2 separate regions of the Homo sapiens genome follow, and region 2 is linked to region 1. The links come from fine-mapping of genetic effects on gene expression. Tissue or cell type: whole blood. Region 1 holds a variant in brackets; the other region holds the start of a gene. All regions are shown on one strand. Distances are between the middles of the regions.

The links. PIP is the estimated chance that this variant, and not a neighbour inherited with it, causes the effect.
Region 2: BCL2L11 starts here. The variant in region 1 is fine-mapped to the expression of BCL2L11 in whole blood (TOPMed, PIP above 0.99).

Annotation. Positions count from the first base shown.
Region 1 is chr2:111,409,256-111,417,357 of GRCh38, reverse strand. The region is part of intron 1 of MIR4435-2HG (MIR4435-2 host gene); the gene reads left to right. Among named protein-coding and RNA genes, the nearest start is that of SOCAR, 78 kb to the left of the region's middle. The variant C/T (reference allele first, on the strand shown) is at 3,797.
Region 2 is chr2:111,117,467-111,125,568 of GRCh38, reverse strand. BCL2L11 (BCL2 like 11) reads right to left here and starts at 4,655. Exons shown (of 4, transcript NM_138621.5): 1 at 4,381-4,655; 2 at 1,430-1,836. The coding sequence starts at 1,823. It overlaps ACOXL (acyl-CoA oxidase like), which reads right to left. Exons shown (of 18, transcript NM_001142807.4): 18 at 7,021-7,953. The coding sequence ends at 7,753. RefSeq lists silencers at 2,571-3,130, 3,923-4,217, 4,551-5,090 and enhancers at 4,101-4,220, 5,371-5,450.

The DNA of each region.
Region 1 (8,102 bases):
TACTCAAAGTTGGTTTGTTTAACCAAACTGCTTAAAATGTCAACTTAGTTTGCAAAACAGCCCTATGTGGTTGGTGGTATTATCTGCAATTCATCACCAACACACCAGGCCCAGGGCAAAGCTAAAAGCAAAGCTAACAGCCAGAGTGACCAGAACTGGGTCTCACCTCTGCTACACCTGTGCCAGGGAGAGGAGATGAACACTGTAAAGTGCTTTCATGCACTTGGGGGCCTTCCTGTCCAAGTGCAGTATAAATGTTCTTTGTGCCACATCTTAAAGGAATCCTCTTACAGAAAGGGCTTCCCATCTGAGTGGCAAGACCCAAGGCTAGGCTGATGCCTCTTCCTTTGCTATGTGAGACCTGAAGGCAAAGTCTGCCTGGACTGACAGAGATGGATGTGGCCTCCGTCTGTCTGTGTGTCATGACAGAAAGGAGGTGGGAAAACTTGGAAAATGGGAACCCTCACTTTCCTGAAATTCCCAGCAATCAGTTCCAAGAATTGTAACCTTGAAGCACAGGAAAGCAAGACCCTCAGCCGGGAACATGAAAGCTTTTGTCGGGAATTCTTTGAGGTCCTGATGAGGTGACACAGTGACCAGATGTTCCAGATTCAACATCAAGGCCGGTGGGGGTGGCACTGCACCGGTCACTTCAGGAAGAGCAGTGTAGTCAGAGAGCATGGCAACCACCATTCGCCTGGTAGACAGCTCATTCCATCTGCCTTGCATATTTTCCTACTTCCGCTGAGCTCAGAATGGAGAAGATCGAATACAGTCTGCTCTTATCACCCTGAAGACTTTTAAAAAGGCTCTGCATACTCACACAAAAATCGGGAACTTGATCACTGTGGCCTGACAATGTGTTTTGAAAAGGCGGGGGTTGGGGGCGGTCAGTCTTTCCCTGAAAGTTCCCATCCATTGTTGAGTAAACATCATAAATCTATCGCAGAGAGACAGGCTGCCTGTACTCAAATTACCGCCTGCTACAATTTTAGCTTCAAGTTTTAATGCCCTAAACATGAATAACGTCGTATCCCAGCACAGGTCTGATTAATGAGGCAACTTTGCCAACTTCAGGGTCGGAGAGTGGCTCCCCACCTCCTTCCTTTTTTTCCCCCTGTGGCTTAGTAACCATTTCAGCAAATTTCCTCATTAAATATACAAGGCGACTGAGTGCAATAAAAACTAAAGGATGTGGCAGATAAACACCAGCGTCTCTCTGAGCAGACCTCGCTGCCCAACAGAGCAGGCCAGCTCAGGTTTGCTGGGAGGAATCCAGAATGTTCCATCATGAATTCCAGCATAAAAATCATGCACGCATTGCCCTTTGCCATGGGTCATTTTCAGTCTGTGGGTTACACTTACAGGACCGTCTGCTTTCCGAGCTGTCACGTGGTTTATACATGGAATGCCACTCATGCCCTACTTGCACGTAAGGTGACCAATGGCTGGCTGAAGGTCACACTCAGGAGATGACCCAAATTAGCACGTAATGTCCAACCTTGAAAGGAAAGAGGGAAGTTTTATCTTGCCCAGATATTGTCTGTTCCCCAAATAAGATTGTGTGTCGCTTGAGTAATTCCCGAATAGGAGCCCGTTTGTTGAGCACTTAATGCACCCTGGGCACTGAAGAAGAAATGCGGAGGAGTCCCCAGGACTTGCTGAGTCTCCTAGAGACAGCAGAGGTGCTCTGCTCACAGGAGCTCATTTTCTGCCCACAACAACCCTGTGCCATCAGCTACATTATCTCCAGGTTTCTCATACAACCAAAGCTGAGGCTTATAGGGTGGCACAACTTCCCCTGCTCTGGCTCCGAATTCAATATTCCTAAGCCATAAAGCATTTCTCTTTCCTCCCCATCCTGTTCCTATTCCCAGTCTCTCCATGAACACACACACACACACACACACACACACACACACACACCCTTGTCTACACTTGAGCTGTAGTCTGGGCCCGTTACATCAACAACACAACCACGGCAGAACGTGGATTGGTCCAAATTGCAGAGATTTTAAATCTAAATTTCCCATGCTATTGAGACTTTACAGAACCAGTCCTTCAGGTGAGTTTTGATTTTCTGTTTAAGCCAGGGTTCAGCAAACATTTTTTCTAAAGGCCAGAGAGTAAACATTTTAGGCTTTGCTGGGCTGCATGGTCTCTATCACAACGGCTCAACTCTGCCATTGTAGCATGAAGCAGCCACCGGTAATACATAGAGGAATGGCCCAAGGTGTGTTTTAATACAACTTTATTTTTAAAAACAGGCAGAGGGCCAGATTTGGCCTACGGGCCATAGTTTGAGACCCCATAGTTTGAGATCTAAGTCATCACTAAAAGTGTTATCAGTAATTGAGGGTTTTAGACATTGCATCTGTCTAACCTATCAGAAGTAAGATTGGGGGCCAGGGCCATTGCAGTGAGGCTGTGGAAGTTCACAGCTGCTTAAGAAGCACTGTGACCAACATCGCTCCTTACCCCAGATGGGCCAGGCCAGCAGTCACAACATGTGCTCCATGGGGAGACAGCAATAGGCATTTCGCTAGAAAAGAGTTCTCTGGACTAGTAAGTTTAGAAAACCTTGGGCTATTATTATCGTTATTATTATATTATTCCATGACTGCAGGACTTCTCAGGGCTTTCATAATGCTGATGAACATGAATCTTCCTAGATATTCTGGATCTCTAGGAAGGGAAGGTTTGTGTGCAGAGCATGTCTGCACGATATTCTTTGGGAAGACTGCGCTGGCTCCCGTCCTAGAGATTCTCATGCTGTCTTTTCTTTCTACCTGTTTTCCCAACTGTTCCCACTTGAGAGTACTGGCCTGAGTTGCTGCCAACCTTACAATATCCAGCTCCGTCCTCAGAGCCACACTGCGGTCCCACTGGGGACTTTGGTGGCCCTGCCTCCCTGCAACCCCAGGTACTCAGTTTGGAGGGTGTGGAGAGGGCAGGGTTGAAATGCAGGCTGCTGTGTCTCTTTCCTTCAATTTTATCACCAGCTGCTGACCATGCTTGCTTAAAGGTCTGGTATTTATGGTCTCCTAGAGTCTCCCAGAACCTCACAAATACCCCCGGGCTCCTGGTTTGAGGGACTAGATGGGAAGCCCCCCTCCCTGGGAGAACACAGGCCTAGAGCTTCCTGGAACTTAGGCAGCTTGGTCAGGGAGTGTGAGGACTCTGACAGGAGCACGGGTGTGGGACATTCATGCCTGGAAGGCCCTCGCCACCTGAGACCTCGGTGTGGAGGCGGGACTTGGAGGAAAGGAGTCCCTGCTATAGTGGAAAAACCAGCCAGGGTAGGTAGTTTTGTATAAGACTCTTAACTCTGTGGAGACTTCTGTTCATTATCTGCAAAATAGAAATGTGTATCCCAGCAGCCTAGGCTTAGACTGTGAAGGACTAGCTGAGGGGTGTGTGAGAAAGTTTTGCAAACATGGCTGGGCACAGAAGGCTGAGCTATTGTCTGGAGGAAAACTCTCAGGGCAATTCAGACCTTTCTGGGCCCTTCTGAGGCAAGAGGCATTGAGGCAAAGTTTGAGATTTGACTTCAGGGACACTGTTCTCTAAGCATATGCTTCAGTCACGAGCGCTGAACCCACTCTCAAAAGCTAAGTAGTAGCAATGAAATGCTTAAAAAGTTCGACCCAGACTGCAAAGACCCACAGAAAATAGAGCACAGTGGCTGGCTTGGGGAGGGACCCTCGGTCCAGACAGCAGCCAAGGAGTTCTTGAGCCTTATTTATCACGTTGTAGTATTTTACAAGGAGGGCTATGCGTTATTTCTCTAATTGAA[C/T]GTTACTTTTAAAAACAGACAAAGAGAATCAGGAAAAATGATGTGAGGACCTTAGGCCCAGATCTGTTTCCGTTTCAACAAGATGTGTCAGGATGATGAAAATGTCGTTTGGTTGAGCCGTGGTCATCACCCCGCATTGTTGTTCTTTCATGTGTTTGTGTGTGTGTGTGTGTGTGTGTGTGTATGTGTTTCCCTCTGAGTTTCCCAGTAGTCATTACTAAAAAAAACTCCTAAACTGACTCAAAACAACAATGACAAAAACAAAAGCAAACAAAAAGACCCAATCACCACAGGCGCCATTCAGGCCCTCTTGTCTGACGGTGTTCACAGACTGTGCTTGTGTTTCTGGATGTACCCGCTTCCTTTTCTCTCTTACTCACCAGATATCACTGGGAATCCCTCCTTCTTGCTCCAGGACTCTAAAGGAGACACTGGGGTAAGACTCATGTGGGTCTTGGGGCAGCCCATTTCCAGGAGAGCATGACCCCCACCCCCCAAGCCCCAGGAGGACGGACCCTTCCCAGCTGAGGCCTCCTCTGCATCCGGACCAGGGCCCTGGGCCTGAAGCCAGGTTTTAGTGAAGGCCTTTTGTGGGTGCCTCTCTTGCCCAGGAAACACAAGGTCTTTAAGCTAAGCCTGTTTGTGGGGAGAGCAACCCATTTCTTAGAGGGACTCAATCCATAGGGAGGACACTAGTCCATCAGGGGGCCCTTGTATTTTCATCCTGGAAAGCACAGTCCCCTGTTTCCTTCTGGGACATGAGAAGTTGCTTCTAATGGTTCATCCCCACAACCTCACTTCCCCATCCTTGATTTGCAAATGGGTCCATAGAGAGGTCCCAGGCAGCTACTTGACCCAGGCAGCGAAGGTGAGCGTGGGTCTCCTCACTGCCATGAGCCAGGCAGAAGAGCAAGCAAAACAGCTAAGAACCAGACAGGCCAGAGTTCAGGTTGCAGCTCTGAACCTGACTAAGCTGTGTGACCCAAGGCAACTCACCCAACCTCTCTGAGCCTCAGTTTCCCCACTTAAAGTGGAAACAAGACCAGCCCCTGCCTCATGGAATTGTCATGAGGAAGAGTGAAGGGGTGCTCGTGCAGAGCTGGTGCCCAGGGAAGGGGCTCCGGTGCCAGGCCTGACAGCTCGTCAGGGAAGCCTGCTGCCGGCCATCCCAGGGAGACAGTGCCAGATCAGAGGGAAGCTCAGCAAGCCACTTAAAAGGGACCTTGACTCATTTTGTGGTAACCGAATGTGCAGTTCAGGAAGTGCTTCGCAAAAGCGAACTGGGCTCCAGCCGCCCCCTCGTCCCCCTGCCCTCTGCTCAGGATTCACTGTGCGAGGACCCACCTGACACCACCTGATGCATGCCAGCAGCGTGGATGGCAGGCCCCACGTGTTCTCAAGCCCACCAAAGGCTGGTGGGTGTCGGCTCTCGGAAAGACAGCCTGACCTCCTGGACTGAAATTCCACTCCTCTCTTTAGTCGAGGTGCTCAATCTCCCTGAGCCTCTGTTTCCTCCTCTGTAACTGGCACTACCGCATACTAGGGCCGGTGCAAAGCCCTTGGCAACTAGGTATCATTTAATCCCCACAAGCAGCTCTAAAGGCAAGTACGAAACCTTGCCATTTAAGGATGGGGAAGCTGAGGGCACCTTGAGTTATGCCAGGGCACACACAGGGTGAGTCTTGGAGCTGGAATTTGAACCTGGGGAATGGCACTCCTGGGCCTTCCCTCCTAACTCATAGTATCTACAACCTGGATTGTAGACCTAGCTAGTAGGTCTTGGGGGTCCTTCCCTCCTAACCCCTGGTATCTAGAACCTGGATCGTAAACCTAGCTAGTAGGTCTTGGTGGTTCCTCACATGGATAGAAGAGATGCCAATTTCCATTAACCATGCACACTGCTGCTTGGTGGGCAGGTGAGGAAGTGGTCTGAGTGTGGAGGAAGCCCAGGACAGGACCCTCTTTGCCTCCCCGTGGGATGTCCTGGCTGCCCTGGGAGGATATGTGTGGTGTTCTCTACACCCACCTGAACCTCTAGCTCCCCAGAGCCTCTGACTGCATGTTCTGAGGGCAGTGGCATCGGGAACCCATGGGCGCAGTGTGCAGAGACTGGCCGAGGAGAGCTGTAGGGGTTACCTATTAAGGAGGCAGGTCCCAGCAGGTACTAGGGACTGAAGAGGGTGGAGGGAGACCCGAGGGGGGAAGAGGCTGCCCTCGTCATTAGCCCAGATCCATCCCACCCACTTCTTCCCATCTCCCTGTACTTGCCCCATAGGGATTCCCAAAGAGAGGGAAGTAGAGGGGGAGAGGAGTACATGGGCACAGGAGAGCGAGTGAGCACCCCACCCCACAACAGTGTCCTGAGGAAGGCCCCTCTTTTGTCTCCTGCTTCACAAGCCTTGGGAACGGGGAACTCTGCAGGCTGAGCGGCATCCCTGCTGGGAAATGAGGGCCTGTCTTAGTTCCTCATTTAAGGCACCCACCCTCATTCCCAAGGCAGTTAAAAGCCCCAAGTTGCCCAACTCGGTCAGAGGAAGCCTGTCCCATCAGTCTCACACACCCAGAACTTGATTCTCTGGCCTCCGAGACTGGGCAGGGACCAGCTCTGTGTCCCCGAGCCCACATGTAGAGGAGGGAGCCGCGAAGCTGATAGCCCAGGAACTTCTATTCCCCACTTGTCATTGTCAAACTCTGATGTCTTCTGGGACTAAATTTGAAGGACAGTTTTTACTGTTGTAACCAAAAAAGCAAAAGGAAGCAAACAATTAACAGGCCCCCTTCTTTTCGGGACTTTTTTCTTTGTCAGTAGAAAGCCATCTCAGTAAACAAGAGCTGTTACGAAATGTACCTCACCCCACACTATGCCTGTAAAGCATCTCCCTTCCCCCCGCTGCACAACCCATTGTACAAGAAATATTGTGATAGATACCTTTGGGTTGAGGCTGGAACAAAATGAGCCATCAGGAAGCATTCCATTTTCAGCTGGACTTGTTTCTGCATCTTTTGGAGGATTTCTGCAAACCCACAGCCCAGTATGGCATTTCCCATACTCTGTGATAAGAACCTCCAGGATAACGTTGGTGGCTCAGGGATCATCTGAGCCTTGAGCAGCTTCCATTCTGATCTGGATGTCTCTGATGTGTGCTTGTTCAAGCAATCGATGAGCCAGTCGTGGGCCCCAGACTCATGGGAACTGGGGGAGTGCCCAGGTCAACCCTGCTTGCTTTTACAGCTTTCCTATAAAAGCTTCTCCACTCTTTGCCTGGGCAAGCCCATGCCCAGATCTCCAGCACACACTCCAGCTGCCAGAGGGGGTGGGGGGGCTCCCTCCTGCGTCTGGAACCTATTCAGCCAGCCTGAGATTCAGAAGGGCCTACCTGCTGGAGCTGAGGGTGGGTGAACCCACCCACTTGGGGCTAGCGAAAGATTGCATCTTGTCCCAAGGCTCTGCTGGACCTTGGAGGATTCCCACCATTGTCTTTTTGGGATTTGAGGGAGGTGTTTCAGACTGGGAGACTGGGAGAATGTTTCCCAGCAAAAGGCAGAGGTTGGGGTTCCTGGGATGTGGCTCCCCACAGACCAGGAGGCTGACACAGTTCCTCTCTCTGTCTTCCTGCTTTTCTCATGCAAACAGCACCCCTTTCCCATGGCTGCTCTAACATCCTTGGTAGCTTAACACAAAACACAAATGTATTCTCTCACAGTTCCCAAAGGCCAGAAGCCTGAAATCTGTTTCAATGGGCTAAAGTCAAGGTTTCGGCAGGGCTTTGGGGAGATCAGCTTCCTTGTCTGTTCCGGCTTTTAGACATGGCCAACGTTCCTTGGCTTGTGGACCCTTCCTCCACTTAAAGTCCATCACTCCAGTGTCTGCCCCATCGTCACATGGCTATCCCTTCTTTAACCTTCTTGCCTCCTTCATATAAGGACCCCAGTGGTTACGTTAAGGGCCCACTCAGATAATCCAGGACTACCTCTCTATCTCAAGATCTTCAACTTAATCACATCTGCAAAGTCCCTTTTGCCGTGTAAGGTAACATTCTCAGGTTCCAGGGATTTGTGGATGTCTTTGGGAGCCATTATTCAGACTCAGATAGTTATAGTTAAGACCTATGAGACAGTCTTCTACATCCCTGAGTGATACTTGAAGCAGCCTAGCAACAAAAAAAGCCACAAAACTTTGTCAGGAGAGCTGTTTTTGGGGCCACCCCACATTGACCCTTACCTCTGCAGCCCCTGGTTTCCTCTGGCCCCTGCACTTGTGTGATACCTTGAGAAGGGGTGGATCCACATGCCAGCCTACGCAGGA
Region 2 (8,102 bases), 290 kb after region 1:
AATGTCATTTTGTTCCAGTGTCTGTTCTGATGGGTTTGTTGAGTTAGCCTTCATCATGAGGTACAATCTAAATTATAATAGACTCTGTACTGGGTTTCCTAATTGATAACTCTACCAACTTACTTCTATCTTGTTCATGTATGGCAAGCTAATCTGGACAAATGGTCAATGTGATTGACTACTGATCAAGACATGAACCTTTTCCATTGGTGGGGAACAGCAAGTCGATCAACACAGACTCAGCCCCTCACCAAGGTTACCCAAAGTATGTACCCAAAGTCACATGCTGTAGGTTCAAGGGCCAAATCAAGTCTGCAGATGTTTCTTTTCAGCTTGTACAATGTTTTCAAAATCTGAATCAGCTGTCAATGTTGAAACAGGGTATCTGGCATCAATTTTGCATTCCTAGGTTATCTTGCAATATAGGAAAACCCACCCTGAGACCACATGCCCTCACAGCCACAATTAGGTGTGGCCCAAACATAGAAGGGGCAAATACTCTCCAATTTACCAGTCTCCACCAGGTCAGTTCCTTCCATGATTTTGCTGTGGGCCTCTGTGGTATTTATGTTAGCCACTCTTGGTTCAAACCCTACTACTGCCTTTAATCCCTGAAATAAAAACCTACAACCTAATCTGATTAGTACTATGTCCAAACCCTCTGAGCAATAAGCACAAAGAGGAATTTAGGCAGAAAACAAACCATTTTCATGGTTCTATGTTGGTACTGCTTTCATGAACTAGTTCATTTTTTTAAAAGTGTTATTTTCAAAAATGATTGTCATCTTTCTTTACACTTTTGATTATTAAGCTATTTTCTGTAAATGATCAGTTCCCTTTCAAGCAAAATGTCATTACTATGTAAAGCCTGGTGGTTAAAACACACTTTAGCTTAATGAAGACAGACCTGAAAGCTAATGTTTGGACCTCAACTCATCACTGCCACAAAAGTTAGTAACTTTGTAAAAATGTTGATGTGGGCCATGCGCGGTGGCTCACGCCTGTAATCCCAGCACTTTGGGAGGCTGAGACAGGCAGATTACAAGGTCAGGAGATTGAGACCATCCTGGCTAACACGGTGAAACCCCATCTCTACCAAAAATAGAAAAAATTAGCTGGGCGTGGTGGCACGCGCCTGTAGTCCCAGCTACTCTGGAGGCTGAGGTAGGAGAATTGCTTGAACCCGGGAGGTGGAGCTTGCGGTGAGCTGAGATTGCACCACTGCACTCCAGCCTGGGCGACAGAGCAAGACTCATCTCAAAAAAAAAAAAAAAAGTTGGTTTGATAGTTTGACACATCCTCCATTCCCATCTAAAGATGGAATAAATCAGTTACGGGGTTTTAAAAGGGGATTTTAAATGCCACACACAGCCTTCAAGCAGATTCAACCATCCACACGTCAACTGCCTCTTACCCAGGCATTGCTTACCCATTGCACTGAGATAGTGGTTGAAGGCCTGGCAAGGAGGACTTGGGGTTTGTGTTGATTTGTCACAACTCATGGGTGCTGGGCTCCTGTCTGTGTCAAAAGAGAAATACCCACTGGAGGATCGAGACAGCAGGGAGGATCTTCTCATAAAGATGAAAAGCGGGGATCTGGTAGCAAAAGGGCCAGGGCTGGCAGGTGGGGCCAGCGGGCCCTGAGGGCTGCCGTGGGGGCAGCTGTCCCCTTCACCTCCGTGATTGCCTTCAGGATTACCTTGTGGCTCTGTCTGTAGGGAGGTAGGGGCCCCAGGTCTGAGCTGGGGAGGCCTCTCCGCAGGCTGCAATTGTCTACCTTCTCGGTCACACTCAGAACTTACATCAGAAGGTTGCTTTGCCATTTGGTCTTTTTTTCTGCAAGTAAAATAAAAACTAAGATTATTTTAAGCAAAAAAAAAAATCGATGAATAAACAAATTAGCTCTCACCTAGCGATTAAAAATTCTTAGGGTTAATCCCAAATACTTTGTTCTATACTTTTCTGACAATCTCCCAAATAAAAAAATTGCACCTAAAATAATAAAGGTGTAATTTTTTTTTGGTAGAGGGTACCCCCAAACAAAATACAGTAACAATGTCAACAGCTTGCGGAACTGGTGCACACACACATGCGTTTCCAGAGAAGCAGCTAATCTGAAGTCTATTCGTGTGTGCTCTTTGCCCAGGACAGACTTCTTCGAGTAAGTCAGAAACTCCCAGCGGCTCTGACTTCCCGGGGTTAGGTAGGACGCCGGAGCACAGGAGCGGGCGCAGATGCAGCGATTGCAGGCGGCTGGCCGCGTTCCCTGCTCCGGCCCCATTGTTTGCCGAAAATGCTGAGGGCAGCAAGTCTGGGGAAGGTCTGGCAGCGGCCGTCAGTCGTAGTAAGTGCGTCACAATAGAGTTTGTAACTCCAGCGCGGCTCGGCCCGGCTCTGGCGCTCTCTCCGCCCGTGCTCCCTCCCTCCCGCTCCCGTACCGCACGCCGCACCGAATCAGACAGAACTTCTCTGAGGTGCACACCGTGAGGTGCACATCTCTAAATGGGGAGGGGGCGGCGGAGGGCGACGAAGCGAACGCCTGCAAGGTCTACAACTAGGTCCGCAGGCTAGGCGACACCGGTGCGCGCCGCGCCGCCTTCATCCCACAGACCCTCCCCTCAGAAGGCAATCACACCGAAACTCACGTCCGCGCCTTCCCTTCAGAGCGCAGCGTCCGGGCCAGGGACCAAGCCCCGCGGCGTCCGGCCCGCGCCCTTCGCCGACCGGGCGCCCCCTGACCGTCACCACGAAAGCAGCGCAGGAGACAAAGCCCGGGACTCGGGTTCAGAGTCCCCGGCGCAGCGCAAAGCCCGCGCCTTCCCGCCAGCCCGCCGCCGCGCTCCGCCGGGCAGCCGAGGGCTCCGCACGCCGCGCCTCTGGCCCGCGCTGCCCCGGCCGCAGCCGCCGGGAACATCCTCCGCCTCCTCCCGCTCCTCCCCTCGCGCTCTGCGCCCGCCGCCGCCGGCACCGCCGACCTCCCCGCGCCGCTGGCGCCGGGTGCCCGCGTTCCCAATTGGTCCGCGCGCGGTCGCTCCGCGCCGCAGCCAATCGGCAGCCGCGGTGGGGGCGGCGCCTACGGGTCAGGCCGCCAAAGGCGAGGCGATTGTTGACAAACTCGCCTCCGAGCGCTGCTCTGGCCGTGGTCGTGGCGGCTGCCGCTTCGTCGGAGGATTTGAGGGCCGGCTGGCCCGGCCACCCTGCCCATCCCTGTGCTCCTTCCGGACACAAGCCTTAGCAGCTCCCGCCGTCCTGGACAGCCAGTCACCTGGAGACAAAGCAGGACTTGCGCCGCGCCCGGACCCGCAGGGCCATCCCCAGGCCCAGTCCTCGCCACTTGTCCTTGTTTTGGCCCGTCGGGGGCAGACCCTAACGGCCGTCACCGCCCTGGCTGTGGCAACTATTCTCCTCCAACAACTTCCTCTCTCTCCTGGTGCGCCGCAGACACGAGTCAAAGCCGAAGAGCCACCCCTGGCCGCGGACGCGCACGTCCGCGACCATCGAGTAAATTCACACCCTCCGCCCTGGCGTCCGTCGGGCCCTCCACCAGCAGCGCCAACCCTGGGGCAACAGGTCCCAGAGGGCACGGCGCCGCCAGCCTGCACCGCGAACCGGGTCGGGTGTGCTCGGGCATGCGTGAGCCGCTAAGATAGCCCGGCCCAGGGACCGAGCAGGTTCTGCCGGCCGCGACTAGTCCCCTGCGCGGTCCAGGTGGTCAGGGGAGGACCTAGATTTCTCGCTGCCAGGGAATCGTGCGGATGGCACAGGCCGCAGGACTCCTGCAGAGCAAGCAGGGGCCCCAGGTACGCTTGAGAAAGCGAACGCAGCAGTGGCCCCGAAACCTTGGCCTGAATGAGTAAAAGGAAAAGCCGTGTCTCGTCAGTTAAATCACCACCGCAGTTCCGCAAATCCTCCGCAACAGGCCCACGCGCCCCAAAAAACCAAGACACGAAACACCCTCACACTGCGCGGCCGCTACTCTGAGGGCGCCGGAGCCGGCGGCGAGACTTTCCAGCTGGGCGCACAGCCCGATACTACGAGCAGGTCCTCAGCTCCCGGGCCGGCGCCGAAAGGCACGCGCTGCCTCTCCTCCTGCCCGGACCTACGACCCTTCACCAGGCCCGCGCGCAGCATCCCGTCCCAAGCCGCACTTCGGCCAAGAGCCTGCAGGTTCCGCGTGAACGACTTTTCTTTAAAGAGAACCTGCCCGAGAGGGAACCCGATCCACACGGATCCCCACCTCCCGCCGGCGACAAGCGGCGCCGATGCAAGCGTCTCCGCTCGCACGTGCACGGGAAGCGGGCAGTAGGTGGTGCCGTTCGGGCTCCAGCGCTAGTCTTCCTTCGGTGCCAGGCCCGCGCCCCGGGATTTGGAGGTATTTACCTTGCGTTTCTCAGTCCGAGAGTCAGAGTCAGACATTTGGGGGAACAAGGGCCAAGAAAGGGCGCCGAGGCGGTGGCGGCGGGAACGCAGCGAACCGAATACCGCGATGATGCGATCGCAGTGTGGCAGGGTTCGCAGGGTGGCTGCAAGAATCAAGTGGTGGTAGTGGCGGCGGCGGCGGCGGCGGCGGCGGCGGCGGCGGCGGCGGCAGCGGCAGCGGCGCTGGACGCAGAGCTCCAACAAACTGCAGACCAGGCGGCTGCGCGGAGCGAAGTGAAACCTGCGCGGCCCTGCAGCCCAGCTCTGGCTGGCGGCCCCGCTCCTACGCCCAATCACTGCGGACCCCGCCCCCGCTAGGTCCCGCCCCGGCGCGCGGGCTGGCAAGCTCCGCCCCCCTCGGCGCCGCGGCCGCCGGCGCGTGCAGGCTCGGACAGGTAAAGGCGGGGGTTGCCCCGCTGGGTTGCCTCCCGCGCGCGCCGCCGTCCCTGGCGTGTTTACCGGAGTAACTCTGCCTGCTGGCGGCCATGTGCGCGCCCATCCCCCACCCCGAAGTGTACCCTAGCCTCCCGCTCACCTACCCCAACCCGGCGGCGGCCGCGGCGTGCGCGGCACAGAGGGGGCGCTCCGGTCACAGCCTCCGCTGGCCCGGCCGGCGGTGTGAAGCCTCGGGAGGCGCCCTGCGCTCTCACTGTGCCCTGAGTTTCTAAGCCGCTCTGGGGCAGGCGCGGGGACTGGGTTGGTCCTCGCGAAGGCGCGGGGCGAGGTCTTTGAGCTCTCCTCCCTCTGAGGGTCCCTGGCGCCGGGCGGGACGCGGATCAGCAGGCTGCGCATCTTCCTCGCCCGGGCCTCTCGCGGGACTCAGGCACCCTCCTCCTGCCACCCCGCAGGGGCTCTCCAGCTTTTCTTCCGCGCCCAGTCGCCCTAAGAGACAGAGGCCGTGGGGGCAGGACGCGCCCAGAAAACGGCCAGGCGCGGTCCCAGTGGGCGTCTTCGCCGCCTCCCGGGTGAGGGCGGGAGGCATGTGCAAAGCAGGTAAAATAGGGAAATGAAAAAAGCACTCAGAAAAAAAAATCCTTTTAGGAAAAAAAAAAACGAGGTGAATGGCGGCCTCCAAGTGAGAGAGAACGTTGCGCACTGCATTTGGCTAGGACCCCCAAGATTTGCTGGGCTCGCAGATAACCTCGTAGGAGCTCCCTCGACTGGCTGAGGCCAGTGAAGGCAGAACAGCTGAGTTCGGGCCGCGGTGCGGGAGCGCAAAATACCCCGTCCCTCCTCCCCTCCCGCCTCCCCACCCATCCCTTTCCTCCCTGGAGTCCGCAGCACCTCACTCTACCTCCCAGGAGACCAAACTCCATGCCGCCTCTCCAGTCCTCTGAGTCTGCACCCGGGTCTGCTCTCCCAACGCGTGGCTGGCGCCCCAACCCCGGCCCTCCTGTCTGCTCCTCCCGCGCCTCAGTTCCCCAGCCCCAGCTTCTAGACAACTGCAGCGGGGGTGTGGGAGGTGGATCGGGAAATGGAACATCCCGCAGGTGAGGTCAGGCTAGATGGATTAAGGAAACTCTGTAAAGGGACCACCCTACACACCACCGCAGCCGGCAGGGAGAAGGAAGGGGCCTTGCCGTAGAGGAGCAAGTGAGGAGGCGTTGTCCCGCCGTCCGGCCGCCTGGAGCAGTTTTTAAATTCATAAGCGCTTCTGTAACGTCAGTGGGACACAGCGCAGCCCCATGCCAAAGTCTCAGCGCATTTTCGGGTGAATTTTGAGCGAGGTGAAGGAGGCCTTGGGTTCCCGGAGTCGCTGGAGGACGCGCGTCGGGCCCCGCCCAGTTATTTCGCTGCAAGAGGGAAAAGGCACGAGCGTGGACACGGCTAAGTAGACTCGGAGGCCGGAGATCGGTCCTAACCGGGCCTCGAAGTTCCTACCGCGGACGAACTTTGCTCTTCGCGGCCGTCCCGCGTCGCACCCGGGGAAAAGCAACACAACTTGCTGCGCGGGCTGAGAGCCCGAAGCCCGCCGCACGCCGCAATGCTCCGCGCTCCCCGCGGGGTCGGGCGACTCAGACAGGGACCGGAAAAGAACCACGCAGAAGAAAGCCCTATTTCTTGTCGTCTGTTCCTGTGCAGCCTTGCAGCCTCGCCGCCCCCGCGTCGCTCGCTCTCGCGACCCTGTGAACACTTTGAAAAACAAGAGTCGGGGGAAGCAACGGGCTAAGCGCTGCTATTTGGGGCACTAAAAGGAAGCCGGCCAGAGGTGGCGGGTTCATGCGTCCCCCGAGACCCAGGCCGCGTCGGGGGCCAAGAGCCCTTACAGCCTTCTCCCGCGCCGTCGGGAGGTCCTCCCGGAACTGGGCCGGAGCGCAGAGAACGCAGTGTGAGAAGGGCCCATGGGTTTTAGGTCACCTCCTTCGCGCTGGACGCGGGCAGAGCGGTGTCCCTTTCTGTCTCTGCCAAGAGACGTGGAGGGAGGGAGAAGGGAGGATGGCTTGTGCTGAAAGAAACAAGAATGAAGTCGGGCAGCCGGGATCTGAGAAATGGGAAATCCATGGCCCTTGTTCGGGACCACAGGCTTTGCCGACGTGGTCTCTCCTAGTTCCGAAATTGCCCAGGCCCGCCTCCCCACCCTCTGCAAGCAGCGGGAACGACTTCCACATCGCTTAATTTCTTTATTAAACTTTTCACCTATTCTCTTCTAAAGGACAGACTACAGCGTCAGATGGTAAAAATGTTTTCCGCGCCTTGTCTTGCCGTACGGAAACCGCCGGCCTGGGAGGACAAGCCGAGTTCTTGTTTTGCCGAGAGCAAAACTCTAGGCTCCCACTTCCTTCTCCCAGTCCGTGCGTTTCCTTGCAGAGCCCCAGAGCGTCTGATTCACTGAAATAGCATCACTTGCTGAACCAAACCTTTTTTCCCGCTCGCGGAAAGAGTGGAGCTTTTTTCTTTTGTCTAAGGGTGTTTGCTTTTTTTTTTTTCTTTCACTCGGCACCACAGTTTTTCTAAATCACTGGGAATGTGAGTCACCGCTAACAGCAGGAGACCTTTGGCGGCACCCGGCTGTGGGGCGCGCTCGCAGCGGGGAGCCCACCCTGATTGTCTAGGGGATCCGGCACTGAAGTTGGGAGAGGTTGCAGTCAGGCCAGGCTGGGTTTCAGGGAAAGGGCACAGGGATCCAGCGCACCAGGCGACCGTCTGGATCTCTTTCCTAGCAGCCAGCCGCGCACCTCGCCAGCCTCGGCGGGACCTCCGCTTTGCCACCAAAATCCCCGAGAGTGGCGGCCCAGCGGGTGCCAGCCCCCGGCCTCGGCCACAGCTCTGGGCGTCGGTGGAGCGAGCGTCGTGGCAGCTGCTGGCGGGCCACCACACTTCCCGCCACACCCGTTAGAGCTTGGCTCCCAGCTTGGGCCGCCGGGAGCGCGCCTCTTCCCGTGGCCGCGGCTGCAGCGGTGCAGGGTAGAAAGCCCACGCGGCCCGCGGGTTGGAGATTCCGGCGATTGGTGCGTGGAGGTAGGTGTGTGGAATGTTAAAGGTCGAGATCACCCTCCGGGCATCATCCTTCACCGAGTCGCACAAATCCAGCAACTGCAAAACACAACACAATGGGACAGGTCAGATGTTGGCACACTTACAGCCATCTAGTGACAGCAGCTTTCAGCCCACCAAGCACCCGCACACACAGCGGCCCCGGAAACTAGTTTCCCTTTGGATTCTCCTGTGGAAACTGTTGGCCA